2 linked regions of the Homo sapiens genome follow. The protein of the gene in region 2 purifies or fractionates together with the protein of the main gene of each other region. This does not show direct contact. Each region holds a gene or a part of one and is shown on either strand. Other genes may lie near its edges.

What was found.
Region 1: the proteins of DNAJC17 (region 2) and CWF19L1 purify together in Homo sapiens (affinity purification with mass spectrometry; 2 studies listed by BioGRID and IntAct, with this or other methods). This does not show direct contact.

The regions. Positions count from the first base shown.
Region 1 is NC_000010.11:100,247,796-100,259,687, forward strand, and holds part of CWF19L1 (CWF19-like protein 1), read right to left. Parts: intron 8,682-11,892; coding exon 8,467-8,681; intron 5,745-8,466; coding exon 5,626-5,744; intron 2,538-5,625; coding exon 2,453-2,537; intron 1-2,452.
Region 2 is NC_000015.10:40,776,450-40,788,341, forward strand, and holds part of DNAJC17 (dnaJ homolog subfamily C member 17), read right to left. Parts: intron 3,549-11,892; coding exon 3,479-3,548; intron 3,155-3,478; coding exon 3,096-3,154; intron 2,862-3,095; coding exon 2,774-2,861; intron 179-2,773; coding exon 93-178; intron 1-92. UniProt on the Homo sapiens protein: May negatively affect PAX8-induced thyroglobulin/TG transcription.

The sequences.
Region 1 (11,892 bases), on a different chromosome or scaffold from region 2:
TGAGGCAGGAGAATCGCTTGAACATGGGAGGTGGAGGTTGCAGTAAGCCGAGATCGTGCCACTACACTCCAGCCTGGGCAATAGACAGAGACTCCATCTTAAACAAACAAACAAAAACTTTGACTTGATCCAGTGAGAAATATGGAGGGGGAAAAAAAAAAACACTGCTGGGGTAGGGGTATAAATTGGAACAAAGTTTTTAGATGAATTTAACAATGCTTGCCAAATTTTATAATGTGCACACCTTTTGACGAAAGTATAAGTTGCTTATGGCTGAGGCTAACATGTCCCTGAGAATAAAACAGACTGAAAATACTAAGTGTTATTCAGTTTGAAAGGGCAATTAAAAGAAAAATTACAAATCTACATTTGCTAAGAATTGGGCAAAAAAGCTGAAAATAGGCTGGGGAATTTATGTGGAGGTCAGAGTGGAAGCAGGTATGAAAGGGTCCAGCAGAAGAAAACATGGCTGCCAAAGTGTTTTGAGTCCGTTGGCAAGTTTGGCCTGGCCTTAGCTGTTGCAGGAGACGTGGTGAACTCTGCCCTATATAATGTGGATGCTGAGCAAAGAGCTGTCATCTTTGACCGATTCCATGGAGTACAGAACACTGTGGTACGGGAAGGGACTCACTTTCTCATTCCATGGGTACACAAACCTATTATCTTTGACTGCTGTTCTTGACCATGTAATGTGCCAGTCATCACTGATAGCAAAGATTTACAGAATGTCAACATCACGGTGCACATGGGGGCCTGTCGCTAGCCAGCTTCCTCGCATCTTGACCAGCATTGAAGAGGATTATGATAAGCGTGTGCTGCTGTCCATCACTACTGAGATCCTCAAGTCAGTGGTGGCTCACTTTGATGCTGGAGAACTAATCACCTAAAGAGAGCTGGTCTCCAGGCAGATGAGCAACGACCTTACAGAGCAAGCAGCCACCTTTGGGCTCATCCTGGATGACGTGTCCTTGACACATCTGACCTTCGGGAAGGAGTTCACAGAAGCAGTGGAAGCCAAACAGGTGGCTCAGCGGGAAGCAGAGAGCACCAGATTTGTGGCAGAAAAGGCTGAGCAGCAGAAAAAGGCAGCCATCATCTCTGCTGAGGGCGATTCCAAGGCAGCAGAGCTGATCGCCAACTCACTGGCCACCGCAGGGAACAGCCTGATAGAGCTGCGCAAGCTGGAAGCTGTGGAGGACATCACATTCCAGCTCTTATACTCTGGGAACATCAGCTCCCTGCCAGCGGGGCAGTCCATGCTCCTCCAGCTGCCCCTGAGGGGCCACCCTGCCTGCACCTCCGCAGGCCAACTGGGCCACAGCCCTGATGATTCTTAACACTGTCTTCCTTCTGCCCCAACCCTAGAAATCACTATGAAATTTCATGATTGGCTTAAAGTGAAGGAAATAAAGGCAAAATCACTTCAGATCCGCCCCCTCCCCCAAAAAAAGCTTGAAATATTATGAAAAAAACAAAATATCGATTTGCTTATCTTTTGTATGCATTGTCTATGGCATGTGATAGTGGAATAATCTTCAGACTCTTTATCTGCCTATTTTCCCACTTCACTAACTGTTCTTATTTTAGCTGTCTCAATCCACAATAGGTTAGTTTTGGCCCTGGGAAATCAGAAATACTCTCAGAGAAGTGAGAAAAACAACCTATTTTTCTGGTATATTCTTTTCATCAACTGCACTGTTTTCCAATACAAAGATAGATTCCAGGTATCACTAAGATTTCCCTCAGGAAATCTTAGCCCTAAGGAGAGCTTAGGTAAGTCCTCTGGGTTTCTTTTTTTTTGTTTCCCGAGACAGAGTCTCACTTTGTCACCCAGGCTGGAGTGCAGTGGCCCGATCTCAGCTCACTGCAGTCTCCACCTCCCACATTCAAGCAATTCTCCTGCCTCAGCTTCCTGAGTAGCTGGGATTACAGGTGCCCCCCACCACACCTGGCTAATTTTTTTTATTTTTTATAGAGATGGGGTTTCACCATGTTGGCCAGGCTGGTCTCAAACTCCTGGCCTCAAGTGATCCGCCCACCTCAGCCTCTCAAAGTGCTGGGATTACAGGCGTGGGCCACCATGCCCAGCTCTTTGGGGTTTTCTTATTTCAGCTAAATGAAGTTGCTAAAGAAGTAAGCAAGCATCTGAGGGCAAATTCACAAATACCCATAGAGACAACCACATAGATGTGGAAGTAAAGGAACACTGTTCATTTGATATTTTGCCTTTATTCCTCTGGGCCTATTTTCCCAAACCCTTCTTTAAACTCTCCTACAAAAAGACCCAAAGAGACTTGACCTTTCATTACCATACCTTTACAAAGGAGTCTCCGAAACTGCTGAGACCTTGCAGTCAGGGAGAAGAGAAGATCTGAATGCTAAACTGGACAAGAGATACATTTATCAGGCAGACCATGAATATCAACCTTCCACCAAATAGGTAAATCTTTACCTTTTTCTTTTCTGGATTTCCAACATTTGCCAGAGCTATAAACCGGGTGGCATGCTGTGCATTTTCCTGTAGAATGATATGGTTTCTACAACATATTTGAGAGACAAAAAATTGCAAACAATTTTACTTTTGATTTGCAATGACAAAATATGTGGACTCTATGGGGCCATAAAAAGAGCAGAGGTCCTCAGTTCATCATCGCCAGTCAAATGATTTCAGATAAGTTACTATCTATCCGTCTAATAGGGCAACAATCCCTACCTCACAAGGCTGTTTTAGGAAGAGATGAGATTATGTCTTCAGAAACCATCAAAACTCCAACTTTTGGCTTTAAAAGAGTTGTAAAATTGGCAAAATGTTGACAATAGTTCAAGCTAAGTGATGGACACATGAGGTTTCACTTTACTATTGCCTCTTCTTTTGTGTAATAAAAAGCTAAAATAGGCCAGGCACTTTGGGAGGCTGAGACAGGAGGACTGCTTGAGCCCAGGAGTTTGAGAACACCCTGGGCAACACAGTGAGACTCTGTCTCTACAAAAAAAATTTTTTAATTAACTGGGCATGGTGGTGCATACCTACAGTCCCAGCTACTCAGGAGGCTAAGGTAGGAGAATCACTTGAGCCCACGAGGTTGAGGCTGCAGTGAGCCTTGATAGTACCTCAGCACTCCAGCCTGGAAGACAGAATGAGATCTTGTCTCAAAAAAAAAAAATTAAAAAAAAAAAAAATGTAGTCCTTTGTGTCTGGCTTCATTCACTTAACATAAAGTTTTCACGGTTCAACCATGTTGTAGCACATGTCAGTACTTCATTGCTTTTCCTTGCCAAATAACATTTCATCATATATTTACCACTTTTAATTTACCCATTCACCAGGTGATGGACATTTGGGTTGTTTGCATTTTGAGCTATTATGAATAATGCTATTATGATCATCTGTGTACAAGTTTTTGTGTGGACATATGTTTTCCCTTATCTTGGGACAGGAATAAAATTGCCGTTACCATGCTGCTGACTCTTACATTTAACCTTTCAAGAACTGCTAAACAGTTTTCCAAAGCGGCTGCACCATTTTACACTCTCACCAGCAATGTGTGAGGATTCCAATTCCTCCACATCCTTGTCAACACTTGTTATTATGTATTTGCCTTTTTGACTACTGCCATCCTAGTGGGTATGAAGTGGTGTATCATTGTGCTTTTGATTTACATTACCATAATGGCTAATGATAAGAGCATCTTTTTATATGTCTATTGGCCTTTTTTTTTTTTTTTTTTTTTTTTGAGACGGAGTCTCACTCTGTTGCCCAGGCTGGAGTGCAGTGGCGCGATCTCTGCTCACTGCAAGCTCCACCTCCCGGGTTCATGCCATTCTCCTGCCTTAGCCTTCCAAGTAGCTGGGACTACAGGCGCCCGCCACCATGCCCAGCTAATTTTTTGTATTTTTAGTAGAGACAGGGTTTCACCGTGTTGGCCAGGATGGTCTCGATCTCCTGACCTCATGATCTGCCTGCCTCGGCCTCCCAAAGTGCTGGGATTACAGGCGTGAGCCACCACACCCAGCCCTATTGGCCATTTTTATATGTTCTATGAAAAACTGTATTCCGATTCTTAAGAACTGTGTAAGTTTTGAGTGGCTTGTTCCCAAAACTTCTGTTTTCGCAGTATATTTTTAGAGAACAAGACATTCTTCTAGAATGAGTATATGGAGATTTAACAGAAAAACCTGTATTACCTATGATTCTGCATTAGGCTGTGGGATTATGGTAAGGGGGGTATTCTCTTCTTGCTCACTTAAATTTTTTTAACTAGCAACACGTAAATATTACTTTTGTAAAAAAGAAGGGAAAGAAGTTATTTTAGGGATAATCCATGCCCTTTATCAGTGAAGATAATTCTGAGCTTTTACTTAACTCTCTCACTTGTAAAACACTGGTTTTCTTGGCAGTATATTCTTTAAGAACTTGACCTCTATATCAGGAGATCGAGACCATCCTGGCTAACACGGTGAAACCCTGTCTCTACTAAAAATACAAAGAATTAGCCAGGTGTGGTGGCGGTCGCCTGTAGTCCCAGCTACTCAGGAGGCTGAGGCAGGAGAATGGCATGAACCTGGGAGACGGAGGTTGCAGTGAGCCGAGATCATGCCATTGCACTCCAGCCTGGGCGACAGAGCAAGACTCTGTCTCAAAAAAAAGAACTTGACCTCTATATACCTACTATGCTACTATGTACCCCCAAAAATTAAAAAAATAAAAACTCCACCTCTGAGTGCAAAAGAAAAAAAATAAAAAAAAATATTTTCTTGGCTGGGCATGGTGGCTCACGCCTGTAATCCCAGCACTTTGGGAGGCTGAGGTGGGCAGATCATGAGATCAAGAGTTCAAGACCAGCCTGACTGACATGGTGAAACCCCGTCTCTATTAAAAATACAAAAAAACTTAGCCGGACGTGGTGGCACGCACCTGTAATCCTAGCTACTCAGGAGGCTGAGGCAGGAGAATCACTTGAACCCAGGAGGCGGAGGTTGCAGTGAGCCGAGATCATGCCACTGCACTCCAGCCAGGTGACAGAGCGAGACTCCGTCTCAAAAAAAAAAAAAAGACAAAAAAAAATTTTTTAAATTTTCCCTCTCATTTATTTTTAATTGATAACTAAAATTTGTATTTTTTATTGTATACAACATGCTGTTTTGAAATGTGTATATACTGTGGGATGGCTAAATCAAGCTAATTAACATATACATTATCTCATATTTATTTGTGGTAAAAAATTTTTTAAAGAAATGGGGCTCCCTATGTTGCCCAGGCTAGAGTGCAGTGGCTATTCACAGGCGTAGTCATTGCACACTATAGTCTTGAACTCCTGGGCTCGAGCGAGCCTCCTGCCTCAGCCTTCCAAGTAGCTGGAACCACAGACACACACCATCATGCCTGGCCCTGAAAAGGAAAAAACTGATACAAGTTCTTGATTCTGAAACTGAAGGATTTCCAAAGTGATTTCAAATTAGGGAACAAACTCAGAGAAGATGAATGACTTGAGAGTCACTTACTTCAGTGTCTGAGTAACCAAATGGAACCAAGATGTTATATGGTTAAAAACGAACAAGAGAAGTTTATACAGAAGATCCATGGCAAATTCTTCAAAAAGCCAAGAAGAATGAAATGCTACTCACCGATATGGAAGCCTCTCATAATAGGTCTTTTCCAAAGCAGCAAAATGGTATCTTGGTTTCAAGCCCGTGGCAAGACTGGAAACCAAAGCAGAACCACATTTTTTGGTATCCACTTCTCCCTAGTAAACAAAAACTTAGTCATCCATACAGACCAAAAGTTATCAAGAAATGCAAATAAATAATAAGACATTTTGAAATGTCTTTGAAATTTATACATGAATACAGATGTGGACAGAAGGAACTGCACATTGAATTTCATAAGTATGGCAATCAGAGAAAAAATCTTAACAAATAAGGGAGCTGAACTACTATGAATGTAGAAATAGGAACAACTGTTGGAAGCCAGAGATTAAAAGGTAACTCCTCCATATCAATACCCAAAACACAAATTATTAAAACCTTTTTTGGAAAGTAAGCTCTCCCTCTGGAGCCCACAGACTGGGCTTCTAGTTTTGGTTTGTTTTTTTTTTTTGAGATGGAGTCTTGCTTTGTCACCCAGGCTGCTAGAGTACAGTGGCACAATCTCGGCTCACTGCAACCTCTGCATCCTGGGTTCAAGAAGTGATTCTCCTGCCTCAGCCTCCCTAGTAGCTGGGATTACAGGCACGTGCCACCACACCTGGCTAATTTTTGTATTTTTAGTAGAGACGGGGTTTCACCATGTTGGCCAGGCTGGTCTCAAACTCCTGATCTCGTGATCCGCCCGCCTCAGCCTCCCAAAGTGCACGCGTGAGCCACTGCGCCCAGCCTCTAGTTTGTTACGTAGTGCATCTGTAGTTCACGGGTCCAGACAGTCATAGTCAATTCAGAAAATCAAAGCGAAAAGCTAGGCTTCAGGGCTCCTAGGATCCACAGAATATCTGGTATAGAGTATTCAAGGACTTCATCACCAGCATATAATCCTTTATTTTGCTTCAGTCAAGGAAGTGGCAGTTTGAGGAAGGGCATAACCACACCCTTCTTAAGTAATATGAAGTTTGCTCAAAGTTATTCTTGCTCCCAGAACATCCCCAGATTCTGTTAACAACCAATTAAGTGATCTCTCACCCACAGCATTATTTATGAACTCTATTCTAAGAGAAGGTATTACTTGGAAATAAGCTAACAAAGTTTGTTTTCCACTACGTAAAGCAGGAATTTCCTTTTGTCTTATGCTTGTTTCCTTCAGGTTTCTGCTGAAGGGCAGGGAATTAGCTTTGAGGTCAGTCCTAGCATCTTAGGGACTGGTGAACTATACTTTTCTCCTCCATAAATATACTGTATGGTTATTTATAAGCCTTGATCAAAATCAATTTTTAGCTCCCCGCAAAACAAAGGGGCCTCATTTTCTCATCCTTCCTTACAGAGCATCATATGTGTCTTTCTCTCTTCCTTCATCACTTTAGCAGCCCTTCTCTCGATCTTCCCTAGCTTTGCTATATCCTTGTGCTCCAACCAGCTCTATGCCTTGTATTCTACGTAAAGAGTAATCATGGGTTTGTCAAAAAGGAAGAGAGCATCCTCCTTGATAATGCCTGGTATCCTGTTGGCCTTTTTGGTCATGGACACATGGTGCTGAAACTGGCAAGGGGTGGTATACAGGCTCCACTTCTGGATCATCACTGATAATCCTGAATCCAACCATGGAGATTTGTTCCCAAATGCATTCTTACATTTCCCTTCAATGAAGCTCACCCAGTGTTTTCTGCCCTCACACATAACCTTTTCAAAATCTTCCTTAGGCTTACTTCCACCAGTGTAGCGTTTCACTCCCCATGATAGTTGTCACTCCTGGTGTACCATCCTTTTCAAGATTACTCATAAAATATTAAAATCTGGCCAGGTATGGTGGCTCACGCCTGTAATCCCAGCACTTTGGGAGGCCAAGGCGGGTGGATCACTAGAGCGCAGGAGTTCAAGACCAGCCTGGGCAACCCTGTCTCTACTAAAAATACAAAAATTAGGCTGGGCACGGTGGCTCATGCCTGTAATCCCAGCATTTTGGGAGGCTGAGGTGGGCAAATTACTTGAGGTCAGGAGTTTGAGACCAGCCTGGCCAACATGGTGAAATCCCATCTCTACTAAAAATACAAAAAAATCCGCCTGTAATCCCAGCACTTTGGGAGGCCGAGGCAGGCAGATTGTCTGAGCTCAGGAGTTCATGACTAGCCTGGGCAACATGCTGAAACCCCATCTCTAATAAAATACAAAAAATTAGCCAGGCATGGCAGTGTGCGCCTATAGTCCCAGCTACTTGGGAGGCTGAGGCAGGTGAATTGCTTGAACCCAGGAGGCAGAGGTTGTGGTGAGCAGAGATGGCGCCACTGCCCTCCAGCCTGGGTGACACAGCAAAACTCCATCTCAAAAAAAAAAAAAAAAAATTAGCCAGGCGTGGTGGCGCATGCCTATAATCTTAGCTACTCAGGAGGCTGAGGCAGGAGAATCATTTGAACCCGGGAGGAGGAGGTTGCAGTGAGCCAAGATCGCACCACTGCACTCCAACCTGGGCGACAGAGTGAGACTCCATCTCAAAAAAAAACAAAAAACAAAAAACAAAAAAATCAGTGAAGCCTCAAAACATTAAGAGGCTTAGGAAAGGGCACTTGAAGCAGAGAATATAAAAAACCATTCCTTTATAATTAAGATTTCAGCAGTCTCATCTATGAATCACACTTTCATGAAATTAACTTTTGCTTTGATCAGTTGACAGAACTTTTAGAATCCTGAAAATTTTCACAGAAGACTTCTAATAAAAGGTACCCAAGAGCTAAAATACTCAATATAAACAGGAAAAGAAAAAAGTCCCAACTCAAGCCAGTGCAATTTGCTTTTAGAAATTCCAACTAAACAAACACTACTCACAGAAGAATTCCCAAAGTTCCCCACACACTTGGGCCATGGGGATGTGAGCAAGATATCAACACCCTTAAACTGGGAGGTTGTACACAGCATCATTCTCAGAGAAGACACATCCTTGGGACTAAAACTATAACCTGGTACTGGCTCATTTAAGGATTCTGTCCCACTGAGGTACACAATCTGCAGCCCCGAGCTTCCAGTGAAGATACCTTTACGACCTGGGTTCAAAGAAAAATGAACAAATTTTAGTCAGAATTGCAGAATGAAAAGCCATCAATAGGGGGATGAATCTCCCATGACTCTCCTATGTCCCTGCCATTTTACATGTCTGAAGTGTAAACTCTCCAGCAGCTCCCTTCTGGCTGCTAGGCATCAATGGTGAATGGCTACAACAGTATTCCTGCTCAGTAAATATGAACAGCCCTACGTGGAGGCTGCTGGAGCCCACGGGCCAGTATGTTTATGCCAGGTGCCTTACAAATATTACTGGAAAAAGTTGGGAAGAGAAGATTAGGGAAAAGGCTTTCTGCGTTCTAGAGAAGATTCTACATGGACTTAAATGCAGACATCTGGACACAGGAAAAGGCAATGCGAAGAAAAATACAGTTCTAAGGAAGCTACAGTCTAGAAAAGATGCACATAGTGAAACCCCATCCCTACTAAAATACAAAAAATTAGCCAGGCATGGCAGCGTGTGCCTGTAGTCCCAGCTACTTGGAGGCAGGCAGCAACTTCCAAGTGAAGGAAAACATTTGGAAAGAACAAGTGTTTAGGAAAAATTTAAGACGCCACTCTCTTCTATGGTTATTCCTGGCTTGTGGCCTTGTTTCCATTCCCTCCTGTTGCCTTCAAGACCTTGCTCCATCAATTTTCACTTCCCTTTCATCTACTGAGTCTACTCAGCTGGCGCTTTTTGTTCAGAAAAAAATATGCTCAATCATCGCCATCCAAAATGAACACACATACTAAGAAACTTCCTCCTCTTCAGTTTTGAATTTCTGAAGAGTCATCCATGCTAAGTGCTTTACCTTTTTTTTTTTTTTTTTTTTTTTTTGAGATGGAGTCTCGCTCTGTTGCCAGGCTGGAGTGCAGTGGCGCAATCTTGGCTCATTGCAACCTCCACCTCCGCCTCCCGGGTTCAAGTGATTCTCCTGCCTCAGCCTCCCAAGTAGCTGGGACTACAGGTGACCGCCACCATGCCCAGTTAATTTTTCTATTTTTAGTAGAGATGGGGTTTCATCATGTTGGCCAGGATGGTCTCAACCTCTTGACCTCGTGAACTGCCCACCTCGACCTCCCAAGGTGCTAGGATTACAGGTGTGAGCCACCACGCCCAGCCTACTTTATTAGTTCCTTAACCCCCTGCAATCAGTTTCCCTCTCCCATCACTCTCTTAAAGGTCACCCTATATTTGCCAATGTTCTCCTGAAACTATGTTATCTTCAGTAGATTCCATGAAGTTGACAATATCTTTACCTCTCAAACAGTCCTCTAAGCACTTTTATGTCTTTGTTCCTACCCCCTAGATGAAGATATACCATCCCCACCCACCAAGGTACTATCATCAACCTGCTTCCCTTCTGATTGTATTTCTTCCTTAATAATTTGATCCTCTTCTCAGCTCTATTTTTCATCATTATGGGACCAACTCTCCAAAGCCTATACTCTTCAACACTGATACTCTAGAAAGAACTCTCGGACCAGCACAGTGGCTAATGCCTGTAATCCCAGAACTTTGGGAGGCTGAGGCAGCTGGATCACCTCAGGTCAGGATTTCGAGACCAGCCTGACCAACATGGTGAAACCCTGTCTCTACTAAAAAATACAAAATTAGCCGGGCATGGTGGCACACACCCGTAACCCCAGCTACTCAGGAGGCTGAGGCAGAAGAATCGCTTGAATCCGGGAGGCAGAGGTTGCAGTGAGCCAAGACTATGCCATTGCAATTCAGTCTGGGCAACAAGAGCGAAAGTCCATCTCAAAAAATAATAATAATAACTCTCACTTCCAACTATATGTTGGATGTCCTACCAGTATTTCAAGCTCACTATCACATGTTCACTACCAAGTTCACTGCTTGATCCTCCTACTGGATCCAAAAAATCTATTTCACAGAAATAACCCAAGTACCTTAGCTGCTCTTTCCTTTCCTGGCACTAAATTCATATAGTAAAATGGCTGCCAAATATCTACAGTAATGCCCTTAATCCAAATCTACAAACTATACCAAGAACTGCATAAGTCAGGCTCATGTTAAAATCTACAACAGAATTTCAAAATGCGTATCTGATATGTGTAGTTAAAACTAAACAGTGCTCACTTCAGCAGCACATATACTAAAACTGGAAAGATAAAGAGAATATTAGCACGGCACCTGCACAAGGATGACATGCAAATTCATGAAGAGTTCCATATTAAAACAACAAAACAAATAAAGTCCTTCCTTCAATTTTTGCTTAAAGAAGTCCCACAGGATTAGTGCAAAATAAGACTGGTAACGGGAGGGCCATAGCCAAATAAAGACTAAAGGCCAAGATGAACTATGATGGGGAAGGAGAGAGAGGACATTTACAGCAAAGGAAATGAAGAAGTTTTCTAGAGAAATAAGACCAACAAGGAGGAAATGTGAAGAATAGTAAATTCAACTAAAAAAAAAAAAAAAAGCCGAGCACAGTGGCTCACACCTGTAATCCCAGCACTTTGGGAGGCTGAGGCAGGCGGGTCACCAGGTCAGGAGATCGAGACCATCCTGGCCAACATGGTGAAATCCCGTCTCTACTAAAAATACAAAAATTAGCTGGGTATGGTAGTGCGTGCCTGTAATCCCAGCTACTCGGAAGGCTGAGGCAGGAGAATCACTTGAACCAGGGAGTCGGATGTTGCAGTAAGCCGAGATCATGCCACTGCACTCCAGCCTGAGCAACAGAGCAAGACACTGTCTTAAAAAAAAAAAAAAAAAAGAGTTGAATGATCTAAGAGGCAGCAGACTGCCAGCAGGTGGGGGGAAAACAAAAGCAAAATTTGACAGTGCTTTTGAAAACAGCCAGACATTGAAAGAGCCACTAAAAGCAATACAGAGGGCTGTGGAGGAAACAACTTTAAGCTGGAACTGAAGAGTGTACCTAGAACCAGAAAAAGGAGAGTAAAAAAAGAGTAAAAAGCCCCCAAAGAACAGCACTAAAAACCTGAGTTGCCAAAACCTTAGAGTGAAACCTAGAGCTATAAATAGTTGGGAGGCTCATTAACAAGTAAGCTGTATATACCTAGCAAGATTGTATGGTAAAGCCACATACATGAAATTTCCTTTGTGTGAACATAATTTATACCTTAAGTATCCCATATACTATAGACAAGGAGTTTATCCCTCCAGTTGGCTAAACAAGTGTGTACCGGGTTGTGGGAACGCAACGATATTGGGGCTAAGTGGTA
Region 2 (11,892 bases):
TGCCCTCTCTAGCCACGGCGACCACCAGGTCCATCCTCCCCCACCTCCTCCTCCTGCAGGTGGCCTTCTGGCCAGTGTGCCTGAGTGCTCACCTCTTGCTCTAGTGTCCTGGTGCTCCGGCTCTCCTCTTCCTCCTCACTCTCCTGGGCCTGGGCCTGCCGCTCCCGGGCCTCCAGGTCTAGACACAAGGGTTGAATGACCAGACTGCTGGTCTGTTCAGTTTCCATGTGGCCTCGGCCCACCCCAGCTCTGGCTGCCTCCCCAAAGTCTCAATCACGACGAGATCATACAGTAACTCTGCCCCCTCCCTCCATGCCCACGCCCCCGAGTCAATTTCCATTGAGAAAAATCACAGCACAGAAGTATGGGGTCTAGCAGAGTGGCCAGGGGTCTGGAAGAGTTAAAAACAGCTCACACTGACCAAGCTGGTTCTCTCTAGTGAACAGGGTGTGGGTGGTGCTTATGTCAGCAGCCCAGGGCCATGTGTCAGGGGTGCCAATGGGCGGAGCTGCTGGGCTCGATTCCTGTGGTTTGGCACCACAGCTTGACTTGCTTTGGCTTTGATTCTTTTCACACACTGAGCTCAGGTTCTCACTGTCTCCTTTACCTCCCACCTCAACTCACATTTACCAAGCCTCACTGTGGACCTGGCTACAGGGATGGGCAGAGTGTTAGGGCATCACCCCGGGTCCTGGATTGTGTGAGGGCGTTACCTTCCAAGAGAAACCTGCTTGCAACCATGTGCCAGGCCAGCTGCTGTGAGAAACCCTTCTCTTAGTCCAGAGAAGTTTGTGCACTTTACTTACTTAGACTCTCCTTTTCTCTCTCTCTCTTTTTTTTTTTTTTTTTTTGAGATGGGGTCTCCTGGCACTTGCTTTTCTTTTAATATAGAAATAGATATTGGGATGCTATATGCACATATTAAAATATATGGATGTTGAAGAGCAAGAGGAAAAGGAGAAACTTGAGTAAAGAATGCTTGGACTGGGCCAGGCGCGGTGGCTCACGCCTGTAATCCCAGCACTTTGGGAGGCCAAGAGGGGTGGATCACCTGAGGTCAGGAGTTCGAGACCAGCCTGGCCAATGTGGCAAAACTCCGTCTCTACTAAAAATACAAAAATTAGCCGGGTGTGGTGGTGCGCAACTTAGTCCCAGCTACTCGGGAGGCTGAGGCAGGAGAATCGCTTGAACCCAGGAGGCAGAGGTTGAAGTGAGCCGAGATCGTGCCACTGCACTCCAGCCTGGGCAACAAGAGCGAAACTCCGTTTAAGAAAAAAAAAAAAAGAGTGCTTGGACCATGCTGCTATAACCAGTGACTTTTTTTTAAGTGAGAAAAAAAAAATGCTTGCAGCAATCTTATTGGGTTGATGAAAATGTTCCAAATCTGATTTATAGTCAGAGTTGCATCATTTAGTAAATTTACGAAAAATCATTGAAGTGTACACTTGAAATGGGTTGATGTTGTGATATACAAAGAATACCTCAATAAAGCTATTAGAGAAGAGAAAGCCTGGACCTCTTTGAATCCTTCTGAGGGAGCTTCTCAAAGTGAAAAGTCTGGGTAGGAATTGGGGTTAGAACAAATTAAAAGACCCAGCCGGGCACAGCGGCTCGCACCTGTAGTCCCAGCTACTCAGGAGGCCAAGGCAGAAGGACTGCTTGAGCCCAGGAGTTTGAGGCTGCAGTGAGCCATGATGGTGCCACCCTAGCCTGGGTGACAGTACAAAACCCCGTCTTTCTTTAAAAAAAAAAAAAAGAAGAAGAAGACTCAGCCAGAAATGGTGAATACAAGCACCAATTTTTTTGTTTTGTTTTGTTTTTTGAGATGGAGTTTTGCTCTGTCACCCAGGCTAGAGCACAGCAGCGTGATCTCAGCTCACTGCAACCTCTGCCTCCCGGGTTCAAGCAATTCTCTGCCTCAACTTCTCGAGTAGTTGGGATTACAGGCACCCGCCACCACACCCAGCTAATTTTTGTATTTTTAGTAGAGAAGGGGTTTCACCATCTTGGCCAGGCTGGTCTCGAACTCCTGACGTCGTGATCCACCCGCCTCGGCCTCCCAAAGTGCTGGGATTACAGGCGTGAGCCACCGCGCCCGGCCACAAGCACCAATTTTACTCACACTGGATAAGTTTAAATCCCACCTCCAGCAAGCTCTTAAACTTTTGGTGCCTTAGCTCCTTTGCCTATAAAAAATGGCTTCAGAGGCCAGGTGCGGCAGCTCACCAGCTGTAATACCAGCACTTTGGGAGACTGAGGTGGATAGCTTGAGGCCAGGAGTTTAAGACCAGCCTGGCCAACATGGTGAAACTCCATCTCTAAAAAAACGGAACAAAATTAGCCGGGCGTAGTGGTGCATGCCTGTAGTCCCACTATCGTGAGGCTGAGGCACAAGAATCGCCTGAACCCAGAGGGTGGGGGTTGCAGTGAGCCGAGATCATGCCACTGCGCTCCAGCCTAGGTGACAGGGTGAGACCCTGTCTCAAAAAACCATGTTCTTAAAAAAGGTTTAGTACCCACACTTCCTTGTATAGTTATGATAATTAAAGGGACAATAAGGCATTTGTCACAATGCTTAGCTAATATTAAACCTTATTATTGTTATTATTCCTAAGAGTGTCTTTAGGAACCAACCTCTAAGAACAGCGTTTTGCCCAGAGCCTGAGCCAAAAGGCTTTGAGATGAGTTGCTGGAAGTGAAGCTTCAGGTGAGGGAGATGAATGAAAATGACCACAGGAAACCACAGGCCACCGAGCACTATGATGGCACCTACCAAGCTTCACTTTCTTCCTTTTCTCATCAAGTTTCTGGGTCCTCTCTGCTGCTTGCTTCTTGGCTTTCCTGACCTTGTCATATGCAGCCTGGCAGGAGAAAGGGGCACAGGGCAGAGGGTCAGTGAGAGAGTAAAGACAGAGCCCCGGCAATCTGCCTGGCCCCTAGCCCACGAGCCATCAGAGTGGCAGCCTGGTGACTGGGTCTCCTGGGCTTAGACAGCAAGGACTGTGCCACATGGCAAAGGGCAGAGGACCGAGGTTGAGAGGCAGCAGTGGTCTCTAACCATGGGGGACGATTCCGATGAAGGAGGCTGTGCTTACCCTGGCTGCAGCATCGGTCAGCACCTCCAAGGCCTGAGAAAGCTGGTGGAAGAGTTCAGCTAAACATAAGGATCAAAAAGACAGAAGAAAAATAAAGTTAAGACTTCGTAATGGTGTGCTCCCTCAAAAAAAAAAAAAATCTTCAAAGAAGTCACAGGATGGCAGACAAGCCGACATCAGCAGATGACAGACCAACAAGGAGGGGTGAGCATATCAGCAACTGACCAGACACCCCTCACAGGAGGGAAGCCCTGGGACCCATTGCCTGGAGCCAGGCAATGTGTGCTTACACCCCACAGCACTCACATGCAGAGCTTACATCGGGAAACACAATGCCCGGGTGAGTGGGTTTCTTTCTCCCCACGCCCTGAGAAGAGTCTCACCTGCTCTGGGATTATCTGGATTTTTGTCTGGGTGGCAGGAGAGGGCCTTCTGCCTATACGCCTTCTTTACCTGGAAGAGTCAGACAGAAGACATGGCCATTCACTCTCATCCCAGGGACAAACAGGAAAACCTTGCTCAATGGGTAAGGGGAATCCCATGCACACCTAAAAGAGAAGCTGCTGGCGCCCACTTCCTAGCCACCAGGGAGACTGGCAATGGAGGAGGCCAAGGCCATGGAGGGAGTGAGCCACTGTCGCCCAGCACAGGAGCTGGGCCCACCTCCTGCTAAGTGCTCAACCTCACCACTGCAGATGTCCAGGGGCTGCTGCAACAGGCAGGAGCACAGTACCCCGCTTTCTCGACAGCCACTCGAAGACAGGTACTCTACACATTCTTGGTGGGCATATAAACTGGGGCAACCTATCTGGAAGAAAATTCAGCCATCAAAATTTAAAATGTTCTTTCCCTTTGACCCAAGTCCTAGGAATCTGGACTTGTAGAAGTATGGCAAAAATAAATATACAAGGATGCTCTCTACAACACTGTTGATACTAGCCAGCCAAGATCCCCATCAACGGGGAGACTCATTTAAAAGATTATGATTGGCCGGTGCGGTGGCTCACGCCTGTCATCCCAGCACTTTGGGAGGCTGAGGTGGACAGATCACCTGAGGTCAGGAGTTTGAGACCAGCCTCACTAACATAGTGAAACTCCATCTCTACTAAATATACAAAAATTAGCTAGGCATAGTGGCGGGCAGCTGTAATCCCAGCTACTTGGGAGGCTGAGGCAGGAGAATCGCTTGAACCGAGGAGGCGGAGGTTGCAGTGAGCCGAAATCGCACCACTACACTCCGGCCTGGCGACAGAGCAAGACTCTGTCTCAAATAAAATAAAATAAAATAAAATAAAAAATAAAATAAAAGATTATGATTGAGGCCGGACATGGTGGCTCACGCCTGTAATCACAGCACTTTGGGAGGCTGAGGCGGGTGGATCACTTGAGGTCAGGAGTAGGAGACCAGCCTGGCCAACATGGCGAAACCCCATCTCTACTAAAAATACAAAAATTAGCTGGGTGTGATGACATATTCCCCTGTAATCCCCCTACTTGGGAGGCTGAGGCATGAGAATCGCTTGATTCATGCAGGAGGCAGAGGTTGCAGTGAGCCAAGATTGTGCCACTACACTCCAGCCTGTGGGACAAGAGCGAGACTCCATCTCAGAAAAAAAAAAAAAAAAAAAAAGATTATGATTGGCCAGACATGGTGTAATCCTGTAATCCTGGCATGTAATCCTGTAATCCTCATGCCTGTAATCCTGGCACTTTGGGAGGCTGAGGTGGGCAGATCACTTGAGGTCAGGAGTTCGAGACCAGCCTCGCCAACAAAGCAAAACCCTGTCTCTATTAAAAATACAAAAATTAGCCGGGCATGGTGGCGTGCACCTGTAGACCCAGCTACTTGGGAGGCTGAGGCAGGAGAATCACTTGAGCCCCAGAGGCGGAGGTTGCAGTGAGCCGAGATCATGCCATTGTACTCTAGCCTGAGTGACAGAGGGAGACCTTGTCTCAAAAAAATAATAAAAAATAAATTTCAAAAAGTTTGTTCAGGAATTTGCCACGCTTATTAAAATTTTTTTTAAATAAAATATTATAGTAGACAGAGGTATCCATGTTCTGACATAGATCTTATTATAAACTTTTGAGTTTAGTCCAGGTGCGGTGGCTCAAGCCTGTAATCCCAGCACTTTGGGAGGCCGAGACAGGTGGATCACGAGGTCAGGAGATTGAGACCATCCCGGCTAACACGGTGAAACCCCGTCTCTACTAAAAATACAAAAAAATTAGCCAGGCATGGTGGCGGGCGCCTGTAGTCCCAGCTACTCGAGAGGCTGAGGCAGGAGAATCGCTTGAACCTGGGAGGCAGAGGTTGCAGTGAGCCGAGATCACACCATTGCACTGCAGCCTGGGAGACAGAATGAGACTCTGTCTCAAAAAAAAAAAATTTTTTTTTGTCAGGTGTGGTGGTGCATGCCTGTAGTCCCAGCTACTCAGGCGGTTGAGGCGAGAGGATCGCTTGAGCCCAGGAGTTCCAGCCAAGCCTGGGCAACATGGCAAGACCTCATCTCTACAAAAATTTTTTAAACATGAGCCAGGTGTGGTAGCATGTGCCTTTGTCCCCCTACTCAGGAGGCTGAGGTGGGAGGATCACTGGAGCCCGGGAGGTTGAAGCTGTAGTGAGCATGTTCACACCACTGCATTTCAGCCTAGGTGACAGAGTGAGACCTTGTCTCAAAAATAAAAATAAAAAAATTTTAAATTAAATTAAAATAAAATAAAAAATTAGCCAGGCATAGTGGTGCGTGCCTGCAGTACCAGCTACTAAGGAGGTTGAGGAGGGAGGATCACCTCAGCCAAGGATTTTGAGGCTGCCGTGAGCTATGATGATGCCACTGCACTCCAGCCTGGGTGACAGAGCAAGACTCTCTCTTAAATACATAGAAAGAAAGAAACCCCAATATTTCTTACATAAGTAAAAATAAACACAGCTACCAAGATTCTCTTTCGTGTGCTACCTAATAGCTGTTGTAAGTGAAGACAGTGTACACAACCCCAGAATCCGTCCTCTGCCTCCAAGGCCTTTGCTTTCTCCCTTCTGCTTGGTGTGTGTTACCTGCTGCTCAAACCTCCTGGAGGAAGAGCTAAGCAGATTGGATTTCTAAGCTTCCAAGATGGACGCAAGAAACGCTTCTACACCCAAGTGTGCTAAATAAGGACTTTCAGAGGTAAGCAGCCAGCATCCACAAGGTGAGCACCTGCTGGGCAACTCCTCCATCCATGAGGCAGCCACCGGGCCCAGGACCTCTAGGGGTGTGCTGCCACCTGCTGGGCCATAGCCAGGGCACCTGCCATGGCAGCCCAAGCTGTTTGGTTCTCCTGACTGCCTTGGAGGCAGCAGGAACCACCCAGGACAGGCGCTGGGCAGAGAGGGTGTAGACGTGCCACCTGCCTTCCCAATCGCCCACCGAAGCACATCTGCCCTGCCTGCTCACCTCCCACCCTAACCCTCCCTGCCTAGCTCTGTTTTCACTACAAAAAAGAACAATATTAAGGGAAAGGAGGTGCTAGCTTAAGACAGTGTCATCTTTGCAATATATCATCTTTACTTTTTAGGTCCCTTATCATTCGTCTTTTCTTTCTTTTGCTCTCTTTGCCTGCTTTATTGTGCCTCCAGCCTCATTCCTTTACTGAACATATTTTATATTTCAGGGCCCCTGTTTGCTTTTTTTCAATAAGTAAAACAATACCAAAAACATTATAAAGATGTTCTTTCTCAATCTCCCCAGCCCTCTGACATCAAGGTTCATTAACACATATAAAAGCACCTACACACACTGACAGGAGTCTGTTGGGTGTTTGTTCCTGGCCTCTGGGCCCCTCCTCTCTGATCCTATCTCCACCCTCTCTCTGGGATGGGTGAGAGGAAGGGAGGGGGAGGCGGTCCATGTCCCAGTATCTATGGCATCACCTGCAACACTACCTTCAAGATGAACTTCCTCAGGACTAGGACTAGTAGGCTTGCCCCAGGGATGTAGGGGGGTTTTGTGGAAGATGTTTTCTTTTGTATCATGGGGCTCTTTTAAAGTGGTTTAGGCTGGGCATGGTGGCTCACACCTCTAATCCCATCGCTGTGGGAGGCCGAGGTGGGTGGATCACTTGAGGTCTGGAGTTTGAGACCAGCCTGGCCAACATGGTGAAACTTGTATCTACTAAAAATATAAAAATTAGCCGGGTGTGGTGGTGCATGCTTGTAATCTCAGCTATGGGGGAAGCTGAGGCAGAAGAATCACTTGATTCCGGGGGGCAGAGGCTTCAGTGAGCTGAGATCGTGTCACTGTACCCCAGCCTGGGTGACAGAGTAAGGCTCTGTCTCAAAAAAATAAAATAAAAGTTTGTATGTTCCTTGTTATAAATCTGAGAGGGGGAGTAGAAGTGAGTGTGAAGAAGAAGGAGCAGGCTGGGTGTGGTGGCTCACGCCTGTAATCCCAGCATTTTGGGAGGCTGAGGCGGGCGAATCAGTTGAGGTCAGGAATTCGAGACCAGCCTGGCCAACGTGGTAAAACCCCGTCTCTACCAAAAATACAAAAATTAGCTGGGCGTGGTGGCACACGCCTGTAGTCCCAGCTACTAGGGAGGCTGAGGCAGGAACCTGGGAGGCGGAGGTTGCAGTGAGCCGAGATTGCACCACTGCACTCCAGCCTGGGCGACAAAAATAAAATTCTGTCTCAAAAAAAAAAAGAAGGAGCAGTAAGAAAGCAAGACAGAAGGGGTGTCCAGCAGTGGCATCTCCTTCATTTTCTTTCCTTTTTTTGAGAGAATGCTTTCTGAATTTTATTCTAAGGGAATGATAAATATTCTTTTGTGTTTCATAATTTATTTTGAATGTTCTATATTGGAATTTTGGTTTTTCACTGTAATAGGAAAATAAAATTATTCAAGCTGAAAAATCCACTCATATTGTCAAATATGCTTTACATATATTAACTTATTTAATTCTTAAAGCCCCTATGAGGTAGAAATTATTATCCTCCTCATTTTACAAATGAGGAAACTGTGACATAAGGGTTAATTATGATACCCAAAATCCATTCAATGAAAAGCCATACAAACATTACTTTAGGCAAAAACTATTCTACTCCAGCCAATTACCACAGAAAAAACAGTGGACACCACCCCACCCATGCCATCAAAGGCCAGGTAGAGAGCATAGACTTCCATTCTTGCTACCCTAAACCTCTGCCAGAGTGGTGTCAGATAAAGCCAAACAGGGAGGCTAGGACTTTCATCCCCAACAGATGGAAATACAAAAATATAAAAATATCTCTGGGCCGGGCGTGTTGGCTTACACATGTAATCCCAGCACTCTGGGAGGCTGAGGCGGGCAGATCACCTGAGGTCAGGGGTTGGAGACCAGCTTGGCCAACATGGTGAAACCCCGTCGCTACTAAAAATACAAAAATTAGCTGGGCATGGTGGTGGGAGCCTGTAATCCCAGCTACTCAGGAGGCTGAGGCAGGACAATCGCTTGAACCCAGGAGGCGGAGCTTGCAGTGAGCCGAGATCATGCCATTGCACTCCAGCCTGGGAGGGAAGAGTGAAAGTCCATAACAACAACAACAACAAAACAACAACAACAACAACATCTCTGAAAGAAAAGGGATATCCCCGAAAAAGCTTCCAGTCTCAGTATCGTTTATTATTAAATAATCCTACCTTATAAACAGCTGAAAGGGTTATAGCTGATATTTACTTTCTATAATAAGCTTGTATTACTTTTCAAGTGATACAAGAAAAAAACTGGTAAGAAACAAAAACAAAATTGTTTAGCTTCTTTCCACAATTCTAAGCTAGGAGGCAGCATGGTTCACTAAAAGAGGGCAAGTTCTGGAGTCTGGCAGATGTATTTTCAAATTCGGAATCTTCTACATACTGATAGCATGACCTTGGGCAAATTACTGAAGCTCACACAGCCTTAGGGACTTCAACATCAAACTGAGAAGAATAAATCCTACACACAGGGCTGCTGGAAGGATTAAAGAAAATGATCCGTGTAAGCACCTGACAAAAACTAGGTGCTTCCTACAAGTTCCCAAACCTTTCTCTCCTCTACTTCTGGAAGAGGGTAAACTGTGACACCAGGCCAGCAGGATGCCAATTGGACAGGAATTCAGGAATGGACCCTGGTCCACAGTGGATGCAGGTCAACTCCATTTGAATTCTCTAGGTGGACAGGGCTGGATTTGAGTCTGCTGTGGGGTAGATCTAAAATTCAATCCTGGGTTCACTCCCAGGGTCTCTGAAATACTCTTATTCAAGGGGTAGAAGGGATGGGTAGGTAGCCTGAGATCTTCCAGAGTGGCCTTGAATCAAAACCCAGCTGGCCTAAGAATGTTGGTCAAGTATGTCTGTCTTGATTAACTAGTTATTACTATATTTAACTGTTAAACCTGCCCTGGGCAGGGCCCATCCCTTGGTTTTAGCCTGGAAGACCAGTTTTGACTTTGAACCGGTTGGCCTAGAATTTGGTGCTTTGTACTACAAACTAGATTCCCAGCTTTGTCCAGCCCTCCTGGAGTTGACTGCTGCCTGAAGAATTTCTCACCATGTAAACACAACTCTCCTAAAGCAGGCCTTTGAAAAACCTTCCGGTCTCAATATTGTTTATTATTAAATAATCCTACCTTATGAACAGCTCAAAAGGCTAGATTCAGGGTAAAAATGTACAACAATTATTTTTTATAACTATCACAAAATTGGGAAGGAGAGGAACTTTCAGAAGAACAAGAAATAGAAGGGCCATCCTCTATAATCTTACTCCTTATGATATAGGATAAACAGGACTGCTGAAAGCCAGGTATCCCGGGTTGGAAGCTCCTCCAGAAACTGACTCTGGCCCAGGTCCAGTGGCTCACGCCTGTAATCCCAGCATTTTGGGAAGGTGAGGCGGGAGGATCGCTTGAGCCCAGGAGTTTGAGACCACCCTGGGCAACAGAGCAAGACCCCATCTCTAAAAAGAGAAAGAAAGAAACTGTGTCTGCAGGTGCTGGGATCACTGAGGCAGAGCTGAAGCAGCCACAGCAAGGTGTGGCTTTTCACTTGCAGCTTTTCTTCTTTACCTATAGGTTTCCCCTAAATCCCCTGGTCTCTCTAGCGCTTAGAAACACTTGCATTTCTGAGACTTCACAAAGGATCCAGGTGACAGTTCAAATGTTTCCAACCCAAAGTTCCCCATCCAGATCATGGCTTTTCAGAGGAGAAGCTCTTTCTAAGGCCCAGCCTCAGAAGGACGAAGATCTCAGATAAATGTAAGCTCCGTGAGTACTTCGAACTGCAATTTGCAGAAACTTGGTCTTTCTCCTGATGGCTTTCTAAAAACCTCACTGTCTACCACCCTTTTTCCATCCTAGACTGGTTGAGTTTAATCTGTTTTTGATGTCTCAGGATCATCATCCAGAACATCAACTACTGAATAGTATGACACGTTCTACGGAGAGTGGTGTCAGGCTTTTCATTTGCTTCCCTAGGTGGCGAGGATTTTAAATTCTACTCTTTTAATAGTTTTCCTATTACTTCCTTAGTTGGCCTCTACTAGACTGCCAGATGCCAGCCCTTCCCTAGAAGTGCTGCTCATCTGCTGCTTCTTTTCTGGTATGGTCTAGAGAAACAGATAAGCTGGTTATAACTATACCTTAAATGAGAGCATAAGGGTATAGGAAGGTATGGGGGTTCCCCTTACAAATAAAGTGGATGTACTTAGGAGGCAGGGAGTTCTGCTTCTCCCCAGGGTCCAGAACAGTGAACAGCACCTGGCATTCAGCAGGCACACAATAAATATCTGTTGCATGAATTGGCAAACATTCATTTGTTCTCAACCAAAACACAATCGGAAACCTCAACTATGTCAATTACTTCAGACCCACTGAGGAGCAGAAGGAAGTAGGTGCCATCCAGACCCTAGGAGATCTGACCACTATTTCACAATTTCTCCTCCTCCCTGCTAACACCTCCTCTTAAAAAACCAAGTCTGGGAAAGGGAAGGAATTACTAAAGCAGACTGCCAGGATAACCACAGTGGGAACTAAATGTTACCCCCTCATTGCCCACATCAGACAATGAATAATAAATTGGCAGCCACCCAGCCCTTCCCCGGAAGCTCTATAACCGGTTCTACCACTTTCAGCAACCTGAACCCAGAGCAGGGGAGGAGGGCTGGAAGCTGGGTCTCTAGCCACCTCCACTGGGTTTTGCCGCAAGCACACAGCAGGGCCTCTGACATCCACCTGCCTCCAGTTTCACCTCTTGATGGGGGAAGGAACTCCTGACTCACCCAAAAAAGCTAAGTGCTAAGGGATCCAATAAATACAAAATAGCCATCATTAACTTAAAAGAAAGGTGCCCTACAAAGAAGGGATCATTATTTTTTAAAAGGTTGCTGTCCTTTCTTGTAATAAAGCTTGGAGCCAGGTAAGTAAGTGGTACAAGTAAAGAGGCCGAGGCTGATAGGTTAGACTTAGATAAGGAGGACACAGAGGGAGGCAGCTCTATGTGACAACAAGCACTGAATGGACAAAGCATCCCGGGTAAATCAGCTGGAAACCCACTGCCAGGCCCAGTTCCAGTCACAGGCACAGTGAGTGATAACAGCTGGGGCAGCCACGTCTCCCCAAGCCCGGAGAGGCAGATGCCTCCCCATCCCCTCACTAGCAGGAACCCCAGAGGTATATGACTGCCTGATGTCACACGCAGGAAGCAAACAACAGAGCTCTGGGCACCTGCCTAAAAGTCCCCTCTGGCCAGGCATGGTGGCTGATGCCTGTAATCCTAACACTTTGGTAGGCCAAAGCAAGAGGAT